4 linked regions of the Homo sapiens genome follow. The protein of the gene in region 1 interacts with the protein of each later gene in a pairwise test. Each region holds a gene or a part of one and is shown in the gene's direction. Other genes may lie near its edges.

Region 1 (6,286 bases):
GCACCCGTTACTTAGCCGACCGTGAAAGGGAGTCTCCTTTCCTTGGAGGAGTCAGGGAACACTCTGCTCCGCCAGCTTCTTGTGGGAGGCTGGATATTCTCCAGGCCTGGCCTGCAGTCATCCGGAGGCCTAACCCCCTCCCTGTGGTGCTTGAATGATCACACTCCTTGTCCACTTTCATGCTCTTCCCGTACTCCTGGTTCCTCTTTGAAGTTCGTAGTAGATAGCGGTAGAAGAAATAGTGAAAGTCTTAAAGTCTTTGATTGTTCTTATAAGTGCATAGAAGAAAACGCTGACGTATGCTGCCTTCTCTCTCTGCTCGGCTACCTAAGAGGGAAAGGCCCCCTGTCCTATGATCACGTGACTTGCTTCACCTTATCAATTACTTGGACGACTCACCGTCCGTACCCTGCCCCCTTGTCTTGTATTCAATAAATATCAGCGCAGCCAGCCGTTCGGAGCCACTAGCGGTCTCCATGTCTTGGTGGTAGTGGTCCCCTGGGCCCAGCTGTTTTCTCTTTATCTGTTTGTCTTGTGTCTTTATTTCTTACGATCTCTTGTCTCTGCACACGGGGAGAACACCCGCTAAGCCCCCGTAGGGCTGGACCCTACACAGGAAGTCCCCTTCATTGCTGTGTGGACGTGGTAGATAAAGTGTTCTCAAGCTGGAAAGATTTAACAGATTGGCCCCTCGGGGACCTGGACATTGAATATTTTACTGATGGAAGCAGTTTCGTACTAAGGGGAGTCTGCCGAGCTGGGTATGCCGCGGTGACTTTGGACTCAGCAGTAGAGGTACCGTCTCTGTCTGCAGAAACTTCTGCTTAGAAAGCAGAGCTAATAGCTCTGACAAGAGCTCTCTGGCTAGGAAAAGAGCAGAAGGCAAGTATTTACACAGATTCCAAATATGCTTCTGCCACTTTGCATGTTCATGAGGCTGTTTACAAAGAATAAAAGACTTTTAACGGCTGGAAGTGAAAAAACAAAGTATAAGGAGGAAATTCCACCTCTGTTAAACGCTGTGTGGGCCCTGGAAGAGGTGGCAGTGATGCGCTGCAGGAGGCCCCGAAAAGCAGCAAAGCAGAAAGGCAGACGAAGAGGCAAACGGGCTGCAACGACAACTCCACCTTCTAGAGAGGAAGCCTTAGCTATGCCTCCCGCTCCCGGAGATTCCCCTCCTGGGGATCCCAAGGTCCCCTCCAAACGAAAAGTCTTGGTTTGCCCACAAGAATAAGAACTACATTGAAGAAAGATGGTAAAAATTTTCCAACGGGAGGCTAGCCATACCTGGAATGGTGGCCCTCAGATTTGTAAAACAGTTCCACTGGAAAAAAAACCCAAAAAACCAGCACTAAAGACGTTATTAAGGCATCATTTCTTTTTTTTTTTTTTTTGAGACAGAGTCTCGCTCTATCCCCCAGGCTGGAGTGCTGTGGCGTGATCTCGGCTCACTGCAAGCTCCGCCTCCCAGGTTCACGCCATTCTCCTGCCTCAGCCTCCCATGTAGCTGGGACCACAGGTGCCCGCCACCACACCCGGCTAATTTTTTTTGTATTTTTAGTAGAGACGGGGTTTCACGTGTTAGTCTCGATCTCCCGACCTTGTGATCCGCCCACCTCGGCCTCCCAAAGTGCTGGGATTACAGGCGTGAGCCACCGCGCCTGGCCCTGTTAAGGCATCATTTCTATGTGCCATGGCTCACTGCTATTACTCGAGCCATTTGTAAACAAATGGTGTTAAATTCGTGCTCAGAACAATGCATGACAAGGGCCTACTCGGCCCCCAGGAGTTCAGGAAACAGGAGCCAGGCAGCCATACCCTGTGAAAAACTGTGGTACGGACTTCGAGGAAGTACCCTGAGAGGGGGGTTATCAGTGCACGTGGGTGTTCATTTGCACCTTTTCAGGAGGTTGAGGCCTTCCCCACCCGGACAGAGAAGGCACTAGAAGTAACCAAGGTGTTGTTAAGAGACATTATTCCCAGATTTGGACTGCCTCTAACTCTAAGATCAGACAATAGCCCAATATTTATGGCTGAAATAGTTCAGGACTTAACTTGATTATTAAAAATAAAGTGGAAATTACATACAGCTTACAGGCTGCAGAGCTCAGGTAAAGTGGAATGCATGAACTGGACACTCAAGCAGCTGCTAAAGAAATTTTGTCAAGAGCTGGGCGCGGTGGCTCACGCCTGTAATCCCAGCCCTTTGGGAGGCCGAGGCGGGCGGATCATGAGGTCAGGAGATCGAGACCATCCTGGCTAACACGTGAAACCCCGTCTCTACTACAAACACAAAAAGTCAGCCGGGTGTGGTGGCAGACGCCTGTAGTCCCAGCTACTCAGGAGGCTGAGGCAGGAGAATGGCGTGAACCTGGGAGGCGGAGCTTGCAGTGAGCCGAGATCGTGCCACTGCACTCCAGCCTGGGCGACAGAGCAAGACTCCGACTCAAAAAAATAAATAAATAAAATAAATAATAACAATAAAAGGCCTCAGAGGGGAAGGGAATGAGGCAGGAAATTAAATAAAATTAAAATTAAAAAGAAAGAGAAATAGGTTTTCCTGTATCAGGCTGACTCGTCCCGGAGGCAGCAGCAGACACAGCTGAGACCCAGGAAAAGTCCTGATAATATTATCTAATGTGCTCTGAGACTCTCCCAGCACTCCCTTAACACAGGGAGAAGAAAAAACAAATTTTCCTTTGTTTTTGGAATGAGTTTATAGATTCCTGTTCTCTGTAACTAGTGACTTCAAGTATTCTGTTTTATCTAAGAAGTACAGTGAAGGTCATGAGACGCCTGAGCAGGCCTGAACGCCAGCTGCCTGGGCACCATAGTGAAGGTAATGGGATAATCCAGCTGCCTGGGCACCATAGTGAAGGTAATGGGATAATCCAGCTGCCTGGGCACCACAGTGAGGGTTATGGGATAATCCAGCTGCCTGGGCACCACACTGAAGGTAATGGGATAATCCGGCTGCCTGGGCACCACAGTGAGGGTTATGGGATAATCCAGCTGCCTGGGCACCATAGTGAAGGTAATGGGATAATCCAGCTGCCTGGGCACCACAGTGAGGGTTATGGGATAATCCAGCTGCCTGGGCACCACACTGAAGGTAATGGGATAATCCGGCTGCCTGGGCACCACACTGAAGGTAATGGGATAATCCGGCTGCCTGGGCACCACAGTGAGGGTTATGGGATAATCCAGCTGCCTGGGCACCATAGTGAAGGTAATGGGATAATCCAGCTGCCTGGGCACCACAGTGAGGGTTATGGGATAATCCAGCTGCCTGGGCACCACACTGAAGGTAATGGGATAATCCGGCTGCCTGGGCACCACACTGAAGGTAATGGGATAATCCGGCTGCCTGGGCACCACAGTGAGGGTTATGGGATAATCCAGCTGCCTGGGCACCATAGTGAAGGTAATGGGATAATCCAGCTGCCTGGGCACCACACTGAAGGTAATGGGATAATCCGGCTGCCTGGGCACCACACTGAAGGTAATGGGATAATCCGGCTGCCTGGGCACCACAGTGAGGGTTATGGGATAATCCAGCTGCCTGGGCACCATAGTGAAGGTAATGGGATAATCCAGCTGCCTGGGCACCACAGTGAGGGTTATGGGATAATCCAGCTGCCTGGGCACCACACTGAAGGTAATGGGATAATCCGGCTGCCTGGGCACCACACTGAAGGTAATGGGATAATCCGGCTGCCTGGGCACCACAGTGAGGGTTATGGGATAATCCAGCTGCCTGGGCACCATAGTGAAGGTAATGGGATAATCCGGCTGCCTGGGCACCACAGTGAGGGTTATGGGATAATCCAGCTGCCTGGGCACCATAGTGAAGGTAATGGGATAATCCAGCTGCCTGGGCACCATAGTGAAGGTAATGGGATAATCCAGCTGCCTGGGCACCATAGTGAAGGTAATGGGATAATCCAGCTGCCTGGGCACCATAGTGAAGGTAATGGGATAATCCAGCTGCCTGGGCACCATAGTGAAGGTAATGGGATAATCCAGCTGCCTGGGCACCATAGTGAAGGTAATGGGATAATCCAGCTGCCTGGGCACCACAGTGAGGGTTATGGGAGACGGGGTTTCACCGTGTCAGCCAGGATGGTCTCGATCTCCTGACCTCATGATCCTCCCACCTCAGCCTCCCAAAGTGCTGGGATTACAGGCGTGAGCCGCGGCGCCCGGCAGAGGTGAGGGCTTTGGGGGAACGGTTGTGGGGCCTGGAGTGTGGAGGCGTCAGCGCAGGCCTGGCAGGAGCCCTGAACCGGGACAGTGGGGTCCTGCAGCTGCTGGCCTGGGGTGTGGAGACCCCCAACACAGGGGAAGTCTCCAGGACCCCACACCACTAACAAGATGAGCCTTGTGCTCCCTTGGGCTCTAGAGAGGAAGCCCCTCTTAGCCCTCAGCCCCTCTTTCCTCCCTCTCCTAAAGTAATTTGATCCTCAGGAATTTGTTCCGCCCTCATCTGGCCCCGGCCAAATCCCGATTTGACAAATGCCAGGAAAAGGAAACTGTTGAGAAACCGAAACTACTGGGGAAAGGGAGGGCTCACTGAGAACCATCCCAGTAACCCGACCGCCGCTGGTCTTCGCTGGACACCATGAATCACACTGTCCAAACCTTCTTCTCTCCTGTCAACAGTGGCCAGCCCCCCAACTATGAGATGCTCAAGGAGGAGCACGAGGTGGCTGTGCTGGGGGCGCCCCACAACCCTGCTCCCCCGACGTCCACCGTGATCCACATCCGCAGCGAGACCTCCGTGCCCGACCATGTCGTCTGGTCCCTGTTCAACACCCTCTTCATGAACCCCTGCTGCCTGGGCTTCATAGCATTCGCCTACTCCGTGAAGGTGCGTATGGCCCCAGGGAATGCTCAGAGGGTGCCGCTGAGCCTGGAGCTCCACCTGCCCACATGCTGCCTGGGGTGGGGACTTGTGTGTCCCTGTGACTGTGAGTTTGTGTGCACCTCTGTCCCGTGTGTGCCCACGTCAGTGGCTTTGTCTGTGTGATCTGTGTGTGTGTGTGGCTTGGGGAATCTGCCCAGTGCAGGTTTAGGAGGAGGCTCCAGGAGGCTGGCTGGCTGGCTCAGAGTCTGTCCCCGGCTATCCACTAGCCCAGAGCAGTTCTCCCTATAGCCCAGTAAGAAATTACACCTTCACCTTCCAGACTGGCACCCAGGCTCTCCCAGAAAGTGAGAAGGGAACTCACAGGTGACTTCACCCCATGGTGGGGAGAACAGCCTGTGCTGAGGTCAAGGCAGAAGGAGGATGAGCCCCGAGGCTCCTGGAGAGTCTGAGCCCGGGTGAGGAAGGGGAGGAGGTGGTCCCTGATCTCAGGGCGGGGAGAGCCAATGAGGAGACGGAGCCATAGCACGCGGCTCTCAGCTGGGGGATCCTGGTCCCCTCACCATCTCCTCTCCCCCAGTCTAGGGACAGGAAGATGGTTGGCGACGTGACCGGGGCCCAGGCCTATGCCTCCACCGCCAAGTGCCTGAACATCTGGGCCCTGATTCTGGGCATCCTCATGACCATTCTGCTCATCGTCATCCCAGTGCTGATCTTCCAGGCCTATGGATAGATCAGGAGGCATCACTGAGGCCAGGAGCTCTGCCCATGACCTGTATCCCACGTACTCCAACTTCCATTCCTCGCCCTGCCCCCGGAGCCGAGTCCTGTATCAGCCCTTTATCCTCACACGCTTTTCTACAATGGCATTCAATAAAGTGCACGTGTTTCTGGTGCTGCTGCGACTTCACCTGGGGAGGGGTCTGGCTGAGGGTTCGGAGCGTGGTTCTGAGACTGAGCAGGTTGGTCAGCCCCTGCACTGCCCCTTCCGGCCTCTGTGCATCTCTTGGGGACCGGGCAAGTGCTCAGGCCTTCTGGTTTCGGGCCTCCTGCCGTGAGCAGCAGCTGGATCCAGGACCCTGGGAGGAGTTCCTGTGTCCTGCAGGTCTCAGCTCCTACTCAACGTGGGCTCTTTCCGGGAACGTCAGTGCTGAGTCCGGGACACCCTGGGCCCAAGGCCACGCTCGCGGCCTGTCGGCAATCCAGGCTGTCGGCTCAGGACAGAGGGAAGGGTTAAGCCCCCAGCAGGGCCAGGGAGGGGCAAGGTGGCACCGGCTCCCCAGCTGCTCCCAGGCCCTGCTCTGTGGTGCTGGGGACCTGGCTTTAGTTCCTCGGGGTGGAGGGGGCACCGCGCTGCCTGCCTCCGAGCTGTCTGGAGCAGCCAGTCCTGCAGATGTGGGCAGCTCAGGGCCCGTGGGAGGG
Region 2 (7,651 bases), on another chromosome or scaffold:
CGAAGATCATGCTGCTGCATTCCAGCCTGGGTGACAGAGTAAGACTCTGTCTCAAAAAAATAAAAATAAAAATAAATGTCTGCATAATACAAAAGTGGATAAAAGGCCGGGCGCAATGGCTCACTCCAGTAATCCCAGCACTCTGGGAGGCCAAGGTAGGAGGATCGCTTGAGGCTAGGAATTCAAGACCAGCCTGGGCAACAGAGGGAGACCCCATCTCAAAAAAAATTAAAAAAATTAGCCAGGTGTGGTGATGGCACACCTGTAGCCCCAGCTACTTGGGGAGGCTGAGGTGGGAGGTCACTGAGCCCGGGAGGTTGAGGCTGCAGTGAGCTATGAATGCACCACTGCACTCCAGCCAGGCAAGCAGAGCAAGACCCTGTCTCTAAAAAAAAACAAGAAAGAAATCCAAAAGTGGACTGTATCCACTTTTGTATTTGTATTCTGTATTCTGTATTTTGTATTTTGTATTCTGCTCTGTAGCAGAATTTCGGAAATCCGAAACATATGCATATTTATGTATTCCAAGTCTTCTTCAATAGGAATGCATTTCTCTTAAAACCAACAAGAGGCCGGGCATGGTGGCTCACACCTATAATCCCAGCACTTTGGGAGGCCGAGGCAGGCGGATCACCTGTGGTTGGGGGCTCGAGACCAGCTTAACCAACATGGAGAAACCCCATCTCTACTAAAGATATGAAAAAATTAGCTGGGTGTGGTGGCACATGCCTGTAATCCCAGCTACTCGGGAGGCTGAGGCAGGAGAATCGCTTGAACCCAGGAGGTGAGCCTGGTGAGCCGAGATCGTGCAACTGCACTCCAGCCGGGGCAATGACAGCAAAACTCCATCTCAAAAAACAAACAAACAAAAAAACAAACCAAAACCAAACCAAACAAAAAATCCAGCAAGAGGCGGCATACTTCTCTTGTATACTTGGCATGGAGGCAGTGTGGGGTGATCCTAGGATTAAGTGTGGTACATCTGTTGTTTGAAGACCCACCTCTACTGGTTGGGAGGCTTTGGAAACGTATGGAGGCCCTCTGTGCTTCAGTTTCCTTTTTTTTTTTTTGAGGCAGGGTCTCGCTCTGTCGCCAGGCTGGAGTGCAATGGCACAATCTTGGCTCACTGCAACCTGTCTCCTGGGTTTAAGTGATTCTCGTGCCTCAGCCTCCCGAGTAGCTGGGACTACAGGCACGTGCCACCACATTCGGTTAATTTTTAAATTTTCTGTAGAGATGGGCGGGGGGCTGGGGGGGGTCTCGCTATGATGCTCATGCTGGTCTCGAACTCCTGGCCTGTAGTGATCCTCCCACCTTGGCCTCCAAAAGTGCTGGGATGACAGGTGTGAGCTACTGTGCCCCTCCCTTCAAAGACATTTTTCTAATACTGAAATCCGATGCTCACACTCCCCTGTTCAAACTCTACGCAGTTCCCCAATAGGCTCTTACAGGATGCTATCCCAACTCCAATGCCCGGCACCGCCTCCCCTGGCCAGCCCCACCTCTGCCTTCTAGAGACTCTTCCAGGGCTCTGGCCACACCAAGTGACAAGTCCTGGCATATAATGGGCCACTGTATACTCTTTGGGATTGCAGTTCACTCTGCCTGGAATGCTCTGCCACTGGTCCCTGGGGCTGACTCGCCACTGGCCTTCCAAGCCAGGCTGTGGCCCTGGAACTCTCCAGGCACCCAGGCTCATCACCACCCTGTGTGTGGCAACTCCAACCCTCTTGCCATACAAAGCTCCCTCCACCACAGTTACTATCTGGCTCCCTGTCTGCTACTTGTGTCCCTGTCATCGTCCTCTTTGGCCCCCCAGGGCTTGCACACAGAGCCCGGGATAGCAGTTCCATCTTCCGCACACTGCACGTTTGGAGGGGCAGGAACTGCTTTGTGTCTGAGGGCAGCACTGGTCAAAGCCATGCCGGGACATCCCAAAGTCACACCCCAGCATTCACAGACTTGGAGTTCCAAACCCAGGGGCATTGCTGGGGCAAAAACAATTGTTGGAAGAGAAGGGGACCAGGAGCTGTGGATTTTGTAGGGTTTATCAGGAAATGCAGGCAAGCAGTGAAGGGACAATTAGCCATGAAATGGAAGGGAAATGTGCCAGCTTTTGTTGATCTGATAGGAAAGGAGATCACCGGGCCTGCAGCTGCTACTCCTCAGCAGTTTGCAAGGCTGGGAGGAGAATCCAGGTGGCCCCTGTTGACCAAGTGTTAGGAGGGTTGACGTGAGCCACATCTCTTCATGGTTGATGAGGCACGAGGCTGCACCCCAGTATTCTCTGGCCAGGGGCTGTCACCCTGTGGTGCCCGGACAGCTGCCCCCAGGAACAATGGCCTCCTCACTGCCTACCAGAGCCTCTACTGGCTCCAAAGCCCTTGGCCACTCCTGGCCAGTCTCCACTCTTTTTTTTTTTTTTTTTTTTGAGATGGAATCTCACTCTGTCATCCAGGCTGGAGTGCAATGGCACGATCTTGGCTCACTGTAACCTCCGCCTCCCAGGTTCATGTGATCCTCGTGCCTCAGCCTCCAGAGTAGCTGGGATTACAGGTACCCCCCACCATGGCCAGCCAATTTTTGTATTTTTAGTAGAGACGGGGTTTCACCATGTTGGCCAGCTGGTCTCGAACTCCTGACCTCAAGTGATCCACCCACCTCACCCTCCCAAAGTGCTGGGATTACAGGCATGAGCCACCACGCCCGGCCCAGTCTTCACTCTTGATCTGGCTGTTCATCAGTGCCAGGGGCCACCCCTCAGTTCCCTAGTGTACCTGGACCACCCCTCAGTTCCTTTTTCGAGGACTGTGGGTACGATGACTAGGACAGCAGGTACAAGATCGATGGGAATGGGCTTCGAAGAGCTGGTCTTGTGATAAAGAAATATGATGGTCAGGTGGGCTTGGTGGCTCATGCCTATAATCCCAGCACCTTGTGAGGCTGAGTGAGGAGGATCACTTGAGCCCAGGAGTTTGAGACCAGCCTGGGAAACATAGCAACACCCCATCTCTACAAAATATAAAAAAAAATTAGCTGGGCACTGTGGCGTGCACCTGTAGTCCCCAGCTACTTAGGAAGCTGAGATGGGAGGATCACTTGAGCCCCGGAGGTCGACGTTGCAGTGAGCCAGGGTTGCATCACTGCACTCCAGCCTGGGCCACAGAGTGAGACTCTGTTAAAAAAAAAAAAAAAAAAGATATATATATATATATATATATATATATGTATGTGTGTGTATATATACATGTGAATGATGATCCCTTATTAAAAAATAAAAATAAGGCCGGGTGCAGGGGCTGACATCTGTAATTCCAGCACTTTGGGAGGCTGATGCAAAAGGATTGGTTGAGGCCAGCAGTTTGAGACTGGCCTGGGCACATAGCAAGATCCCATACAAAAATTTTTAAAAATTAGCTGGGCATGGTGGCGTGTGCCTGTGGTCCCCAGCTACTGAGGAGGCTGAGGTGGGAGGATGGCTTGGGCCCAGGAGGTCGAGACTGCATTGAGCAATGACTGTGTCACTCTACTGCAGCCTGGGTGACAGAGCAAGAGAGCCCCCCCAGCACCCCCTACAAATTTTTTTTTTAAAAATTAAAAAGGCGCGGTTCGAGAAGAGCTGTAGTCGTCCCAGAGCTACAGTGCAGGTGATATCAAAATGCAGGTGAGAAAACTGGAGACAGAATACAGTAACGGATACAGGTGCCCCTGAAAAGGTGCAGAGGCGCTAAGGACGCAAGCAATCCTGAACGTTCCAATCGTTCGTTTTAAAGTTGTCCTGGCCAACCCGTGAAGCCTTGTATGAGGAAATGTTTCAACGAGGGCGCCTGACGCAGTCCCCGAGGCCAGAAAACACCCAGGTTTAGATACGGGCTCTGACCCGCACCTGCCACAGCCAAATCCCTCCCCCTTCTGAGCCCGATCCCGTGTTGTCCTCCAGGGGTAAGCAAAACACCTGGCAGGGCTGCCTGAAGATTAGGGAAACTGAGGAGACGCGGCAGGTGCCCAGTATTTATAGTTTTGTCCCCAAACGGGGGAGTTATTTGTAAGCACTGGCTACTACCCCCGTCAATCACCTAATTGTCCAAAAAAAGGCAAACGGAGGGAATGCGCCGCAGCTGAGCACCGCGCAGGCCGCAGCTGAGGTGCACACCCGGGTGTGCCCTTTGTATTGCTGGAAGCGCTGGCGATCATAGGGGCAGAGGGCTGGCGTTGGGGCGGCCTGGGACCCACCCGGCCCCGCCCCCTCTCAGGCCCCGCCCTCCCCCTCCTCCACCGGTAGGGGGACCTCGGCCGGCCTGGGAGATCGGGGCGTAGGGGGAGGTGGGGGTGCATCCGCGAGCCCTAAAGGTCATGACCCTATGGGGCGTCTCTGGGTCGTCGTGGGGGATGGGCGGGGGGGGGGGTCTCCCCGCCACGGGAGGTCTAGAGAGCAGCGGCGGCGGGGCGGGGCGGAGTGCAGAGGCGCCGCCGGCGGGGCGGCTTCGGGAGGGCGCGGCCCCTTTAAGACGCCCCGCCGGCCCCGCCCCCGAGCCCCGCCTCCCGCCGCCCACGTGACCCCGGTCTTGTGACTGGGCCCGGGAGGGCGGGGGAAGCCCGCGGCTCGCGCCCGCCCCGCCCCGCCCCGCGTCTGCCTCAGAGGGGCCCGAGCCACCCGGTCCGCCGCGTCCCCGCCGCCGCCGCCGCGTCCCCCGCCGGGGCCGACCGAGCCGAGCCGGGCCGGAGCGGCGGGCGCGGCCGGGCCGCCATGGACCACAAGCCGCTGCTGCAGGAGCGGCCGCCCGCCTACAACCTGGAGGCCGGCCAGGGCGACTACGCGTGCGGCCCGCACGGCTACGGCGCCATCCCCGCCGCGCCCCCGCCGCCGCCCTACCCCTACCTCGTCACAGGTGGGCCCGTAACCAACTTTCCCCGCCGGCGGCTTCCGAGGTGGCAAGCCCGGTCGGGGGACGTGGGTCCGGAGGCGGGTGGGGCCCGCCCGGGGGTCCTTCCTGGAGCTGGAGGTCCCCGGGCTGGCTTCGGGACCCGGCGCCGCCGAGGGCCAGCCTCCCCCCCGGGGCTCTAGTCCTCGGGCCCGTCGTAACCCGGCGGGGCCGGATCCCTGCCCCAGATGAACTTTGTGTCACGAGGCGCTCGCTGTTGGCAGATTAGCGCCGAATCAGGCCCGCGGTGGCCGTCCCGAGGGTGGAAAAGACCGGGGGCTTTTTTAGCGGGGTGGAGGTTGAGGGGACAGGATGAGTAGTCCCCGTGGCGGTCCGATTTCTCCTCCCTGCACCCTAATGACCTGCTTTCCCGCCCACAGGGATACCCACCCACCATCCCAGGGTCTACAACATCCACAGCCGGACCGTCACCCGCTATCCTGCCAACTCTATCGTGGTCGTAGGAGGCTGTCCTGTCTGCAGGTGAGTGGGTCTGCAGCCTGGGGACTGGCCCTGGAAGCTCTGAGGACCCCCGCCCTAACCCCCAGGACCTCACAGCTCTGCTTGTGGGAGTGGGTCCGGCTTGACTTGGATCTTGACCAGAGCCCTTTATGGGAGGGACAGACAGGCTGCCCGAATGCGGTGTGGGAGAGTGCGGGTCCGCTCACCCTTGGCTCTGAACACATTTTGTGGGGGCAAAAGGGTGGATTCCTTTTCCTAGATCTTGGGGCATTGCACCCCAAGTGATTGGGATGTAGAAATGGTAACAACGGGACTCGTGGTCCTTTCGTCTTTGTTCTGGGACTTGCAAGGAATCAGGTGTCTGCTTTTTCCTTCACTTTCCGCAAGTTTACTCTGCAGTTGATCGTCGAAGGTGGTGGAAGGTTTCATTTTCCCGGAAGGGGCATTTGGAAGTAAGTGCACCAGCAGGACAGACCTCAGTGGGAGAAGCGACGGCCGTAAGAGCTGCTTTATCCAAAGTTGGCTTGAAACGCTCTTCCACGAGCTGGACCAGGATGGAAACCCCGTGTTTCTTTGAGGCAGGAGTTATTTTTTTCATATCCTCGCATTGGACCTGCACACGCTTTTTGGTTTTTATAGGGCCCCGAGGTGCAGCTAGAGGCTTGTTTTGTGGAGGTTTTGAGGATTCACATTTAAATAAGGATTAATTAAATATAAACCCTTGGCAGCTGGGGGTGTTCAGATTGCTTAGAAAGTAGGGGCAGAGTTGGCCGGGACAGGGTTTTCAGCTGTGTCTCGGAGGAGGAAGTTGAAGCCACTGAGATGGAATTAAGAAACCCTGGTTTGGACTTAGACTTGATTTCAAAAGTGTGTGTGTAAGGCCTAGAGTGGAGTCACGGGGAAGTGAGTGATTTCAGAGCCTTAGCAGGCAACTTCCTGGGAAGGAAGGGCAACCTAGAGGTGGGGACAAGAGGCTGGGACCTCGGGGGCAGGTTGTGGCTGCTTGCCTGCACAGGGACCCCGTGACAAACCCTAACTGGGACGTCAGTTTGACACAGTTGGTCACCACCCAGCAGAAACATTAGCCTTTGGAGTGAAGGTGGAGGGAGGGCAGGGTGGGGCGCTGGCTGCCTTCGGGACATAGTTCTCTCCCGGAGCTGCACCGGGTTGGGGGGCTGGCAGAGCTGTGTGAGTGTGAAGGCACATGGAGGGGACTCAGAACATGGAGGAGCAGAGGGTCTGCCTGCGTGTCATTGTCCATGCCCTGCCATCCCGGTGTCCAGCCTGCCGGAGGAGCCGGGTTCCGGTCCTGGTCCTGCCAGGAACAGCGGGGCTTGTTTCCCCACCTGGGACGTGGGGGTGTCTGGTGAGGTGTCTCTGAAGCTCTTAGCTCTTCTCTGCCCAAACCCCTGAACTTGGAGAGGTGAGAGACCAGCGGCAGCGAGGGATGGGCCAGATATCCCAGGGCTGGGGGGCGCCGAGGTGGTGGCGCAGTTGCTGTCGGTATGGGGGCACTGGCCCTGCCACTTCCCCTTCCCTAGGTGGGAACTGTGTCCCTGCGGAGGCCCATGGCTTCCGCTAACCTGGAGGTGCTCTCCAGTTATGCAGAACCTGGAGCGGGGTCAGACTGTGCTCTGCTGGGAAGGATCTTGGGCTCGGCCCTCAGAGGCTGTAGGGGTGTGGGGTCCTTGGTTACTTAATCACTGCTCTCTGCCTCTGGGCAGCTGCACCAGGCAGGGTGGAGGCTGGGTCCTCTCTGGACAAGGTTGGGGGGTCCTTAGTCCTTTAAGTTGGGACCAGAGCACTCTTGGATCCTGCGGCGACCCCTTGGGTTGCAGCCAGGCCCTCCCAGCACACACGTCCCTGCGCTCTGCCCGTGGTGCCTTGGATGCTGGAGAGTGGCTCTGGCTCCCCGAGGCTTTGCCTCTGCAGCTGCATTGGGCATGGGATGGGCCCCTGTGCCCTGTGGCAGCCAGAGGGCGAGCAGGGGGCTGGGTGCTCTGCTGCTGGCGTGGGTGGGGTGTGTGGTCCCTGGGCCACTCCTCTCTGCGAGGAGAGTGGAGACGGTTCCCTGAACACACAACACACACGTCTGGCCGCTGCCTGGCGTCTTGGCCCGGGAGACAGGATACCACTCACATGACCACACTTCCTCCTGCCCCAGGTCCAGCCCGCCGGGCTCTGTCCCCCTCCCTGCCTGGTGGCATGGCAGGAATTTGCCCAAGTCACACATCTGTTAGTCCTTCTGAGTGAGGCTTGGCCAGAGA
Region 3 (7,027 bases), on another chromosome or scaffold:
GATGTGAATAAATTTTGAAATAAGGAGAAAATGAAAAATCAATTAGCACTTCAATGGAGGAAAAGGTCATCATAAGAGGTCAAGAGTGAAAAGAAAAGAAAAATAGGAAAAGAGAAAAGAAAACGGAAAAAGAGAGAAGTTTGAAAAACAAAGATATTGTTATATGTAAAATATTTATTCAGAAACAGAATACTTGTTCCTCAGTACCACAAGGAAAAATGAGCATTCAGACAAAAAGTTTTCTCAGCAAGGCAATTTTACTTTCTGCAGAAAGAGTGCTCCTCACAGATGGCACAATGGTGACAGCACACCTGAACAATGGAGGGAAGTAATTCGTATCCCTTATGCAGCTTGTCCCTGCTACTGTGTCCTGTCTCCATTGGCTGGAGCCAGACATCACAATCTAAGCTAAAACCTGACTGGCTAATAATTTAAAACTTTTCTAAATAGGTATAGGCAATAGACAACAAAGGAAAAGAGGACGTTGCTTGTGAAAGGACTTAGAAAAGTAATAATATTTCCAAATAAGGAAGGGGCATAGGCTGCAAGCTGGAATGTACCTGTGAGCATGTTCAGCATAAATATCTTGGTTAAAGTACAAGGACATAGAATGTACTTATTCCTTTATATCTAACAGCTACATAGAATAGGGCTTAACAAAGAGTTACTAGCACAAAGTAAGGGGGCTTGAAGAAAGTTAGTCTTTAAAAGAAATTATTATTTCTAATGTTTATTATTATTATTATTTTCCTTTAACAACAAGGGACACTTTGAAGAGGAAACTTTTTACTTTCTACAGATATTAACCCTGCTCACCATGTTTGCCCAGGCCTCCAAGCTCACCTTTTTGCTGTTGGTTTTTCTAGTTCTTTAACATAGAAAATAAATGAACTGACTGCTTCACAAGATGTTATCACTGCTTTCTAAATTGTGGCTCAGGGTGATTATTTGCCCAAGGTCACCAGGAAGCTGGAATAGCCCACAGTCTATTCTCTACACAGCTCTATGGGCAGACGTGTTTGGTACAACTTCATGCTCCAGTGATTCAGTAAACACCTGTGAGCCCCCTCAGATGCTGACATCTGGATCGAGAGGAGGCAGACCATGCAGCTGGTACCACTAAAATAAAACCACTGCTGCAAATTGTTGTACTTACTCCTCTCTACCCCACATTTTTAAGTGTCTTGTGCCAAGAAGTTTATAGCCATTTCATCATTTAATTCTCACAACAGCACTGTAAGGCAGACATAACTCCACCCATTTTACAAATGAGGAAACAAAAGCTCAGAGGGGTTCAATGATTTGCACAGTTCCCACAGTTTGGGAATACAGAAAGGTTCAGTTCCAAATCTATCTGGCTCCCAGTCCCACCACATGAATCCATTCACCACCACTCTCTTTCATTCTCATTCTTCTTTCTACCTTTCTTTCCTCTGATATCTACTGTGTAAACTTGATTAAAGACCAAGTTATGGATTCAATGTGTAACCATGAGTGGATGCTTTTTCATCTACATAGACAGGCACTTTACAGAGAGAACATGGGCATATGAGGCATACGTAAAACAAACAGAGCATGGGGAAAGAAAAGAGCAAGATCACCAGCCCACTGGAGACCAAAGTTACAACATCCACCTCTACAAGCAGAAGCCACACACTGTGGGTGTAAAGAAAGACAGAGTCCCTTTCCCAGTCAACCCCAGGTCCCTGAAAAACTTCATCTGGCCTCATCTGGTCAGGAAAGAAAAGCAATTCTGCCATGGATTTCAGCAGGTGGTGCTGCTTATGTGTTATCCCGTTGGCTTGGGCTGCCTCAAAAAGATGAATACTCTTAGCAGGAGGGGCCAAACAGATTCAGCACATTAAAATATAGGACCAAAACCTAACCACACTAACATTCCAAGCACAGGACTTGCAGCTAGATTTAAGCTACCACATCACAAACAAGTCATATATCCAGATGGTTTTAAGACCTACAAACTTCAAAAACTTAGGCAATGGTCTAAAGACCCAGGAGAGGGAGTTTCCTTCTTGTATTCATCTGTTCTCTCATTGCTATAAAGAATTACCTGAGACTGGATAATTTATAAAGAAAAGAAGTTTAGTTGGCTCACAGTTCCACAGACTGTACAGGAAGCATGGCAGGGGAGGCCTCAGGAAACGTACAATCATGGCAGAAGGGGAAGGGGAAGCAGGCAGCTTCTACATGGCTGGAGCAGAGGAAGAGAGCAAAGAAGGAGGTGTGCACACTTATAGACAACCAGATCACATGAGAACTCACTATCACAAGAACAACAAGGGGGAAGTCTGCCCCCCACAATTCAATCACCTCCCACCAGGCCCCTCCTCCAACAGACCCGTCCTTTAGTTGTAATCCTCCAACTGGGGATTATAATTCAACATGAGATATGGGTGGGGACAGAGAGCCAAACCATATCACTCCCAAAACAGCAGGATGCAAGGATACCCAAGGGGGGTTTTTCTGGGGCATCTCAGCAGTACGTGTGTCAACGCCACTCTTTCACATCTTTTTTTCCATTATTCCCTCCTTACTCCCCCTCATTTATCTTTTTTTTTCCTACTCTTAGTACCCTTAGTCATTATTTAATTCTGCTAAGTAATTTCTGGGCAAAAGTCATCACTGACCCTTATATTGCCAGGAGGGCTAGAAGACTACAAGGAAATTATGTTTTCATCATTATTGCATTCACTTTAAATTAATATCTATAGCCTTGGATTCCAGAATCTGTTTTCTAGTCCTAGTTCAATCTACCTAGTTAATCAATACTAAGCAACATCCACTCTCAGAATTTCACCGTTCAATATCACTTTCTTATACTGCTTTAAAAGGATGTTTGAAAAAGAAACAACCTATGAAAAGTTAGAAGTTGTTGGTGCTAAATTATATGAAATCAGCTATTGGACAAATGAGTGTTAAATAACATGGAGAAACAAACCACATGTCGCAAAAACAGCAGTAAATTTAACATGGTGAAATTGAAGTATGACTCTTTTATCTGGCCAGGTGAGCATGTTACTGCAAAGAACTATAATTACATGAGAGTTCGTCAAATATATTATCTCATGGAAAATTTAAAGCACGCTTTCTCAACTTTTGTTCTCACCTCTCTGCTGTAAATTTGAATAGCTAAAGCTAGTTTTAACCAAAAGTCAGATGTCAGAATACCTGGTGATCTTGAGCTAATTTTGGACATTTTCTTTCATTTTAAAATATTTTAAAATTATTTTTTATTTCTACTACCATGAACTAGCAGACAAATGTAAAATGTCATCTTTGTATGCCATACACACACACACACACACACACACACACACACACACACACACACACCTTGGTGAGCTATTTTTCCTAGAGATATAAAGATCCAAAGACTAAAGAAGCCAAGATTCTGACAAATTAAAACTAATGTATGCTGGCAAAATAAGAAACTCTAAAAAATTAATGCAGAATTTAGTGAAAGAATTTACAGCATTGATATTATCAATTATCTACCAATAATATTAAATTATTTACTGGAGTGGGTGAAGAAGTTGAGTGAGTGTGTGTGTGCATGTGTGTGTGTGTAATTCTGTATTCTGTTTTGTGTATTCAAGAAGGAAGACTGAAATACCACCTAATCTTTCTTCAGGCTGCTTGTTCTTCTGTTTTTCTCTTTCCTGTGTCACCTGTTCTGCTGATCACATTGCCCTTCTGTCATCTTTAGGTACATCTCTGGTTTCTCTCGTTGTTCCTGTTTCCATTGGAATGTTTGTTAATCACAAATGGCCCCAAAAAGCAAAGATCATACTTAAAGTAAGTATCCCAGTTCACACCATTAAATATTCCACTGTGACAATCAAAACCATAGGGTTTTCCATCCATGAAATGGTTTCATTCTCATTATATGATTACTGTTGAGTGGGGGCCTGAAGTCATTAGCCATGCAGTCTTCTCCTTTAGAATGTCCTTCTTTATATGTGTGTAGAGAGAGAGGTGGGATCTCACTATGTTGCTAATGCTGTTCTTGAACTCCTGTGCTCAAGTGATCCTTCCAAAGTGCTGGGATTACAGGTATGAGACACTGCGCCCAGCCTAGCATGCCCTTCTTTATTGCAGTCACAGGAAAAATTTCTACCCATTCTTTAAGACACTCCACTGAACTATCACCTCTTGGGTTTACTCTATTCTGTCCTCAGGGCATATTACTGTTATCTCTGTTATGTGAGTTTGTGTTATACAATATATCTAAATGGCTTTCTTAGAAAATAGAACATATCTTTCTTATGTCTGTATGCATATGGCCATTTCATTGCCTGGCAATCCCATTCACTAACTATATTCTAGCTAGATGATCTGGATATGTATGTAGATAATATAGATAGATTCTGCTGCTCGGGGCAAAGTAAGTCCATTGTATTCCTTGCTTCTCTTGACAAAAAATGTTTATAATCTCCAAATTTTGTTTTAAATGTGAAAAGGAGAAAAAAAATAACAACAGTGGTTTTCATTTGCTTATACCTTTTTTAAAGTTGTATAGAGTTCTATACCCATTTTCTCATTATCGTAACAATCATAAAGGGAAGCTGGGGCGACATTTTATCCCCAATTACAAATAAAGAAACTACAGTTCAGAAAGTTCCTGATTTACTGAAGGAAACAGAATAGGAGTAGTTGAATCTGGAAGCCAAATCTTCCAGGCTGTCATCGAAATGGGTTGTCTTTTTGTTCTGACAAGGATAATTTTCAAGTCAGAAAATCTTCAGACTAATTGCAAATGGTTGCTACATGTCCTATTGTGTTCTTAAAGCTTAAAGCATGGGACAAGCGTCAGTATTTCCAGTGGGCTGATTGCAGCCTCCTGGCTTGGAGTACATAGAAAGACAACTTTATCATCACTTCCCCCAGGGACAAGGAGACTGCTGAGGTTTTGTCTCTGACAAACATACTTGGATTTGCTTTGACTCATGATTGCTGGGTTCACTTATTCCTTTTTTTTTCAGATTGGGTCCATCGCGGGCGCCATCCTCATTGTGCTCATAGCTGTGGTTGGAGGAATATTGTACCAAAGCGCCTGGATCATTGCTCCCAAACTGTGGATTATAGGAACAATATTTCCTGTGGCGGGTTACTCCCTGGGGTTTCTTCTGGCTAGAATTGCTGGTCTACCCTGGTACAGGTATGGCATTTAGTAAATCACATTGGGAATTTTAATCTGTAATATCTGTTGTATTCCTTTGCTAGAGGTGCCATAAGACAGAACCACAAACTGAGTGGCTTAAACAACAGACACTTATTGTCTCATGGTTTCAGAGACTAGAAGTGAAAATGAAGGTGTCACTGAATTGATTCTTTCTAAGGGCTATGATGGAGGGATCCCTTACTGGCCTTCCTCGTGGCTTGCAGACATCCATCTTCTTCCTGTGTCTTTCCTCAGTGCACCTCTCTGTGGCCTGGCTCCCCTTTTGATAAGGACACCAGTCATTGGATAAGGGCCTCCTCTAATGAACTCATCTTAACTAATTATATCTGCAATGACCCTGTTCCCACATAATGTCACATCCTGAGGTGCGGAGTGTTAGGACTTCAACATATGAATTTGGGGGAAAGGGAGACATAATCAATCCATAACAGCTGCAAACACTGAAGACAGGATCAAAATCCTTAGCCCTTCATCAATCACATTCATCCTATTTCTGAATATGTCATTCTAAATAGGCCCATTCATTCTGAAGTCATGCAAGTCCCCAGAAAGAAAATACTGACTGCCTCTTTTTTGCTCAAAGTCTTCTGGACCATTCGGCTTACAAGGCAGATGGGGCTCTTCCATTGCTAAGTATTCTTATTCTCTGAGTGGAATGACATTAATGAAAGCAGTTGGGCTGCCTTGGAATAGACAAGCGTTCCTCCAGCTGGCAGCAGGGTGAGCTCATCCTCCAAAGGCGCCGAATATTAAAATGGGTTTCACACTTCTGGATTTGGTACCGGGCAAAAACAATTCTTTTTGACTAATCCATCGAATCCACAGGCAGAGAGAACACAGGTGTAGGGACAGATGCATGTATGAAGTTGGGAAAGAGAGGAGTGGGTATGGGCAGCAAGAAGAGCGCAGTGTTTGAGTCAGGCAGACCTGGGCTTGCCTTCCAATCCGACCACACACTGCCCGGGGGACCTCAGGCCCAGCATTCACTCTTTCTCTGAGTTTTATCATCTGTAGAATGGGGACAATAATTTCTACCTTATAGACTTTCTGTCAAGATTTAAACACAACAATTTTTTATTTTTATGAGACAGGGTCTCATTCTGTCGCCCAGGCTGGAGTCCAGTGGCACAATCATAGCTCACTGAAGCCTTGGCTCAAGTGATCCTCCTGCCTTAGCCTCCCGAGGAGCTGGGACTACAAGCCCACACCACCTTGCCTGGCTAATTTTTTTGTTTTGTTTTGTTGTTTTAGAAACAGGGTCTCATTATGTGGCCCAGTCTGGTCTTGAACTCCTGGACACCTGGGCTCAAGAAATCCTCCCACTTCAGCCTCCCAAAGTGCTGAGATTACTGGTGTGAGCCACCTGTTTAGCCCAGCCTAAACAAAACAAATTAAACAATAAAACAGCGACAACAAATACCATATCTTGAGCATTTTCTGAGCTGCTGCCCTGTGCTCTACACTGTTACCAAAATCATAATTGAAAAGGGTGAAATGAACCCTCTTGGCCACTTACCTAACACTGTGGTAAATGAGCCAACTCTTCATATGCACATATTAAATATATTTATTTATATTATATACAATAGGTGAGATGATGTATAATATACATTAATAAGTATTACACTTATTCCATAGAAAGTTATATATTGAATAAGCCTATCTTAAATACATGCATTAAAAGCAGAGACATAATGCATATATATGTACTTATTATTATATCTGCTTTTCATGTTTCACAATAACAAAACTACTAAAACATGTGCTCTCTTAACATCTTCTTTAGGTGCCGAACGGTTGCTTTTGAAACGGGGATGCAGAACACGC
Region 4 (7,027 bases), on another chromosome or scaffold:
ATGTGAAATCAGCAACTCATTCCATTTTTTTAAATGTGCAAACCAAACAATACATGTCAAAGGGCCAGCTGTAGCCCAAAGGCCCCAGTTTGAGATAAGCACAATACTCTACATCCCATTTAGAACTGGAAGGAATTGTAAGACACAGATCCCATTTTACACATGAAGAGGCTGAGGTCAGAGACTTGCCAGAGGTTTCCCAGAGTTTGTGGGAAACTGTGTCTCCCTCCACTCACTCTGCCTCATAGGTGGAGTCAGTCTGGGGACAGCCTGCCATCCCAGGAGGCCAGGCCACCAAGCAGACCCCTCAATGCAGCCAGGGACGGCAGCTCCCTCCTCAAGGAAGGCCACTAGACAAGTTTCAAAAAATGTAGGTGACAAACAGGCAAGAGAAAACGCCCTCACAGTTGAAGTGAGTATGGCTTGTCAGGCACAGAGAAGAGAGTGCTATGCCAGCAGGAACTGGCCTCTTTTGACCATCCTTGCTGCCCCAAGTTCATCTGCTCCCCCTGCCACCATCGGACTCACAGCAGAGCCCAGAGCCAATGGCCATGGGGACAATGGGCTTGGACACAACCCAAGCACTTCCACAGGTCTCCCAGCCATGATGTAGGAAGCTCAACCAGGACAAGATGGAAGCCACTGGGGTCCCAGAAGTTTTCCACTTCATAGAGACTGTGTTGAGGCCCCTCACAGCTCCCTCAGCTTCTGCCTCCAATCTGTGCATTGACGGACACTCGAACGAGTCCCTTAAATGGGGTACACAGATGTCCAAAAGCAAGGTCTATGCTGTGCTCTTGGAACTTAAGCAGGAGGGAAAAATAAAAAAAACAAATGTGCCCCTTTCCCCCTGAAAGGCAACCAGGCCTACAATCTCAGGAATCTAGAGTCTGAAAAAGTCCTTGCCCGTCCCTGTCCCTTGGGGTAAACCAAGGATCACAACAGTCACGGATGCCAGCAGGCTAGGAGATGGATGTCCCTGACCTGACCCCAGGACCTGTGCAAGTGGAGGAAGTACCTGGGGATCAGGGAACATGGCTCCTGCATACCCAAGCTGACAAGGCACACCAAGTCCAAACTCCAAAACTCCTGACACACAAGCCAAAGTAAGCATGATTCCTCTGCTCTAGGTCACCAGAACAAACACACAAGTTGTGTTTGGCTTTTCCCTAAGAGAAGATCAACAGTAGCATTGAAACCCCCTGTATTCCTATTCCCAATCTCATTACCCTCCACCACTTGCCAAAGGGAGCATCCCTGGGAATTTGGTGTTCAGCATTTCCACCGACCCTTTTCAACTATTATATACGTATATATTCATAAACAAGATAGACTGCGGGATTTACGTCTTTTAATTTTGTACGAACAGTATTATACTGTCCACATCACCTAACAGCTTGCTTTTTTTTTTTTTTTTTGAGAAATAGGCATGTAAAGAAAATAGCTACCTCATGTATCTGAACTGCTGTGCAGTTTGCTTGCATTTATCCATTCTCCTGTTGTCAGATTCATGTGGATTTTACGTCTCGCTTCTGTGAACAGACTTGTGTGTGTCCCTCTGCCCACATGAGGGCATATGCAATTGAAGCAGGACTGCTGGGTCGTGGGAGTCACACATCTTTAAGAGGTCTCCAAGGTCATTGTTCACTTCACACGTTCCCTAGCAGTGTCTGAAGATCCCTGTTTCTCTGTGCCTTCATCTATATTTGGAATTGTCAGACTTTTTAATTTTTTCCAAATGAAAACAGTGAAGCAGATCGCAGTAGTTTTAAATTTGATTTCATGGGAGGCCTACCACATTTCCACGTGTGCGTTGGCCATTCATGTGTCCTCTTCTGGAAACATTGGGTCCTTTGCCTGTTTTTCTATGGGATTGTGGTTTGGGTGGGTTTTGAAAATTAATTTCTAAAGTTATTGTTTTATATATGTTGCAACAGTCTATTCACAGTTTGGAGCTGGTCTTTACACTTTGATAATAATGTCTGATAGATTGCTTATGTTAATTTAGTCAAATTTGCCAATATTTTTCCTTTGTGGTTTATGTTTTTTAGGGGTTTCTTTAAGAAATCTTTTACTATCTACAAGCCTGTCCAACATGGCAAAACCCCGTCTCTACTAAAAAATACAAAAAAATTAGCTGGGCATGGTGATGTGCACCTGTAATCCCAGCTACTCAGGAGGCTGAGGCATGAGAATCACTTGAACCCAGGAGGCAGAGGTTGCAGTGAGCCAAAATCATGCCACTGCACTCCAGCCTGGGCGACAGAGCAACACCCTGTCTCAAAAAAAAAAAAAAAATTTACTGTCTACAAAGTTACAAAGATATTACCCTGTATTTTCTTTGAAAAGTTTTAAATGTTTGATTTTCACATGGAGAGCTCCAATCAATGTAGAACTTATTTTTATGTATGGCATGAACTAATTTTATCTTTTCCATACAAATAGAAGATTCCAAGCCACGTTGAGTGAATTTTTCTCCAGGTATTTGTAATGACATCTCTCTCATAAATGCAGGGCTTGTGTCTGGATCTCTCTTCTCTTCTACGGGTCTATGTGGCTACCCTTGTACCAGTTCCACACTTTCTTAATTACAATTTTATAAGTTTTGTTATCTGAAAGTTAAGTCCCCCTACTTTGTTCTTGAAAATCATGGGCCGGGCACAGTGGCTCACGCCTGTAATCCCAGCACTTTGGGAGGTCAAGGCTGGCCGATCACGAGGTCAGGAGATCGAAACCATCCTGGCTAACACGGTGAAACCCCGTCTCTCCTAAAAATACAAAAAATTAGCTGGGCGTGGTGGCGGGCGCCTGTAGTCCCAGCTACTTGAGAGGCTGAGGCAGGAGAATGGCGTGAACCCGGGAGGCAGAGCTTGCAGTGAGCCAAGATCACACCACTGCACTCCAACCTGGGTGACAGAGCGAGACTCTGTCTCAAAAAAAAAAAAAATCATGTTAGCTATTCTTAGCCTTTTACTCTTTCACTTGAGTTTCAGTATCACCTTTCAAGTCTACAAAAAAAATTATAAGTCTGGAAGTTTTATTAAATGTGCATTACATTTATATATAAATTGAGAGACTATCTTTATAATATTGAATCTTCCCATCTATAAATATGATATAGCTTTTCTTTTACTTAGGCCTTTTTTAATACCTTTCTATAAAGGTTTGTAATTTCTTTCATAAAGATCTTACATGTCCTTTAGATGTATAAGTATTTTCTAGTTTTGTGAATATCATAAATGGTGTCTTTTAAAATATATATATATTTGTTTCTAGTATATCAGACCCAATTGATTGACTGACTGATGCTAATGTATTTAGAACCTCATACATTTTCTTACTTACCAGTTATAATGGAAAATTACTTAGATTTCTTCTGTGGACAATCCTATCATTGGCAAAACAAGAAAGTTTCATTTCTTCTTTTCCCATCCCTATACTTTTTCTATTTCTTGTTTTGCTGTGCTTACTAGGGCCTATATATAGTATAATTTATAAAACAGGTAATAATAATGACTATCTTTGCTTTATTCCTCTTGTTAAAGAAAATCCCTCTATTTACCATTAAGTTTAACGTTTAATATACTTTTTCTAATAGATTTCCTTTCAAGTTAAGGAATTTTCATTCCGTTGCTAGTGTACTAAATTTTTATTATGTAAGAACATTAAATTTTGTTGACTTTTCTATAGCTACAAAATTGTACCATTTCTTTAATAATATAGTAATATGTATTAATAGATTATCTAATGTTAAATCATTCTTACTCATCTTGTTCATTGTATTTTTTAAAACACTTATTTGCTAATATTTTATTATTTTTGTTTCTATGTTCATAAATAAGAGTGGTCCCCAATTTTCTTTTCTCGTAATATCATTCTCCAGCTTTCGTTCCAAGATCATATTAACTTTATACAATAAATTAGGGCATGTTTCCCCTTTTTATATTATCTGGACAGATTTGCATAATATTGCAACAATCTGCACTTTGCATGTTTAGTAGAACACTACCGTAAGACAGTATAAATCATGTAGGGTTCTAGAAGATAGGTTTTGAACTGCTTATTAAATGTCTTAAATGATTCTAAGTTGAATCAGGTTTTCGGCTTCATATTGACTTGGTTTTGTAGGTTATATTTCCCATGAAATTGTCCATTTAAGTTAAAAATGAAAGTATGAAAATGTCCTTAATGACTTTTTAAAATCTTCATTTTCTCTGTAGTTATGTTCCCTTTTTCACACTAACCTCATCAATTTGTGCCATCTCTCTTTTCCCTGGTCTGCCTTGCCAGAGGTGCCTATTTAATTGGCCTTTAAAAAAAAAAAGAAAAAAAAAAAACCCTATTTTTGGTTTTACTGATTCTAACAATTTACAAAACTTAAAAAATTTCTTCCTTTTCTTTTTATTGGGTTTTTCTCATTCTAACCTCTTAAGGTGCTTAACTCATTAATTTTTAATCTTCTTTTTCAATATAAATATGTTAGGCTATAAATTGCCCTTTAATAATTGCTTTATTTGCTCCCTGCATGGTTTTTAATTACTATTTATTGAGATATAATTCACATACCATAAAATCCATTCTTTAAATTGTACGATGCCTTGGTTTTTAGCATAATTCCAAGCCTGTGAACCTATCACCATTATCTAATTTCAGAACATTTTCAATACCCCAAAAAGGAACTCCATCCCATTTAGCAGGAGTCCCCATTTCTCTCTCCTGCTCCAACCCTTGACAACCACTAATCTTTCTGTCTCTATGGATTTCACATAAATGGAAGCATTCAATATGTGACCTTTTGTATCTATACTTCTTTCACTTAGCATATTTTCAAGGTTCATTCATGTGATAGCATGTCACAATACTTCATTTGTTTTTGTAATTGAATAATATCCCATTGTATGGATATAATACATTTTGCTCATCCATTCATTCAGCTGATGGACACATGGGTTGTTTCTACTTGTTCCCTAGTATGAATAATGTCTATGGAAGCTCACAGGCAAGTTTTTGTGTGAACATGCTTTCTGTTCCCTTGGGATATATACCTAAGAGTAGAATTGCTGGGTTATATGGTGACTCTGTGTTTAAATTTTCTAGAAACTGCCAAACTATTTTCCAAAGCACCATTTTACTTCCCACCACCAGTGTATGAGGATTCCTAATTTTCCATATACCCTCCAACACTTGTTATTGTCCAGCTTTTTAATTATAGCCATGCTAGTAGATATAAAGTGGTATCTCAAAGTGGTTTTGATTTGCATTTTCCTAATAAGTAATGATGTTGAGCATCTTTTCATGTGCTCATTAGCCATTTGTATATCTTCTTTGGGAAAATATCTCATTCAAATCCTTGGCCCATTTTTTACTTGTTTTTTATTATTGCATTATAAGAGTTCTTCATATATTGGCCGGGCGCGGTGGCTCACGCCTGTAATCCCAGCACTTTGGGAGGCCCAGGCGGGTGGATCACGAGGTCAGGAGATCGAGACTATCCTGGCTAACACGGTGAAACCCCATCTCTACTAAAAATACAAAAAAAATTAGCCGGGCGTGGTGGCAGGCGCCTGTAGTCCCAGCTACTCGGGAGGCTGAGACAGAAGAATAGCGTGAACCCAGGAGGCGGAGCTTGCAGTGAGCCGAGACTGCGCCACTGCACTCCAGCCTGGGCGACAGAGCAAGACTCCATCTCAAAAAAAAAAAAAAAGAGTTCTTCATATATATTCTGAATATTAGACCCTTATCAGATATATGACTTGCAAATATTTCCTCCCATTCTCTTGTTGGCTTTTCACTTTCTTGATGGTGTCCTTTGAATCACAAGTTTTTAATATTAATGAAGTCTGACTTGCCTTTTTCTTTGGCTGTTCGTGCTTTAGATGTCTAAGAAACCATTGCCTAATCCAAAGTCCCCTCTCCATGTTTTTTAAATATGTATTTTATTATTTTTATATTCTAAATACTGTTTCCACCATGATTTCATATTTGATGATATAATTAGAAAGTTCCCCTCCCCTCATCCCATGATCCTTTTATTGGTTGCTCAGTTTCAATGCTCCTCCCATCCCAGGTCTAATACCTCAATTCTGGTCCCTTCCTTGGGCATTAAAGCCTCCACAGTGCCAAGACTAACACCCCACTCCCCTCCAGAACCCCTCTATGAAGCTTCAGCTTGAGTTCCCCCACTACTTTGCATTTGTTTCTTGTCCGTGGGCACCTTTTTTTTTAGTGGAGTGGCGCTAACATAGCTCACTGTAACCTCAACCTTCTGGGCTCAAGCCATCCTCCTGCCTCAGCCTCCCAAGTAGCTGGGACTCCTGGTGCACACCACCACACCTGGCTAATTTTTGTGTGTGGTTTTTGGTTTGTTTGTTCATTTGTTTGTGTGTAGAGACAGGGGTCTTACTTTGTTGCCCAGGCTGGTCTCAAACTCCTGGCTTCAAGCAATCCTCCCTCCTCGGCCTCCCTAAATGCTGGAATTATAGGCATGAGCCACTATGCCACACTTAAATTGAGTGTTAATTTCTTACAAGCTCAAGTGTGTATTTAAGTGTTCACGGGGGTGGGGGAGTTCCTATTACCTAGTTCACAATTTTCTTTGAGGGACTCTTCTCACCTCTAACAGCTCTTATCCTTATGACATGCCTACCTATTGTTCTTGATGGCTACGCTCTGGAACCTTTGATATAGGCTGCTCTTCATGCATATTTAAGCCATATTCCATCTTTATAGAAATAATGAAAGAAGTGTAGATGGAGGGTAGGGCTGTGGGGAGGAGGAGGGACACACTGAGTGTGGTTTTCCTAAGATCTTGCCAAGCCCTCACCTCCCAACCATCTTCCCACTGGAATAAAAGTCAGAGCCATATATTGTTAATGTAAATGTCCATAAATCTAAGGAGATGCCCTATCAGCTTCCTTCTCAGTTGACCTTTCTGGAGGGCCTCTCCCTAGACAGGGTCCTGGGACTAACATATATAAGATTCCAAATGGAAAAGGAAATTGGACAAGTAGGATACATATTAGAGCTG

The links.
Region 2: the proteins of IFITM3 (region 1) and BRI3 interact in binary tests that used the Homo sapiens proteins (3 or more experiments, as listed by UniProt).
Region 3: the proteins of IFITM3 (region 1) and SLC10A2 interact in binary tests that used the Homo sapiens proteins (3 or more experiments, as listed by UniProt).
Region 4: the proteins of IFITM3 (region 1) and SLC10A1 interact in binary tests that used the Homo sapiens proteins (3 or more experiments, as listed by UniProt).

The regions. Positions count from the first base shown.
Region 1 is NC_000011.10:319,149-325,434, reverse strand, and holds IFITM3 (interferon-induced transmembrane protein 3), read left to right. Parts: upstream 1-4,574; 5' UTR 4,575-4,621; coding exon 4,622-4,870; intron 4,871-5,444; coding exon 5,445-5,597; 3' UTR 5,598-5,759; downstream 5,760-6,286.
Region 2 is NC_000007.14:98,277,049-98,284,699, forward strand, and holds the start of BRI3 (membrane protein BRI3), read left to right. Parts: upstream 1-4,637; 5' UTR 4,638-4,747; coding exon 4,748-4,889; coding exon of another isoform or gene 4,890-4,929; intron 4,930-5,302; coding exon 5,303-5,405; intron 5,406-7,651. UniProt on the Homo sapiens protein: Participates in tumor necrosis factor-alpha (TNF)-induced cell death. May be a target of Wnt/beta-catenin signaling in the liver.
Region 3 is NC_000013.11:103,049,406-103,056,432, reverse strand, and holds part of SLC10A2 (ileal sodium/bile acid cotransporter), read left to right. Parts: intron 1-3,724; coding exon 3,725-3,813; intron 3,814-5,000; coding exon 5,001-5,176; intron 5,177-6,986; coding exon 6,987-7,027. UniProt on the Homo sapiens protein: Plays a critical role in the sodium-dependent reabsorption of bile acids from the lumen of the small intestine. Transports various bile acids, unconjugated or conjugated, such as cholate and taurocholate.
Region 4 is NC_000014.9:69,787,225-69,794,251, reverse strand, and holds part of SLC10A1 (hepatic sodium/bile acid cotransporter), read left to right. Parts: intron 1-7,027. UniProt on the Homo sapiens protein: As a major transporter of conjugated bile salts from plasma into the hepatocyte, it plays a key role in the enterohepatic circulation of bile salts necessary for the solubilization and absorption of dietary fat and fat-soluble vitamins.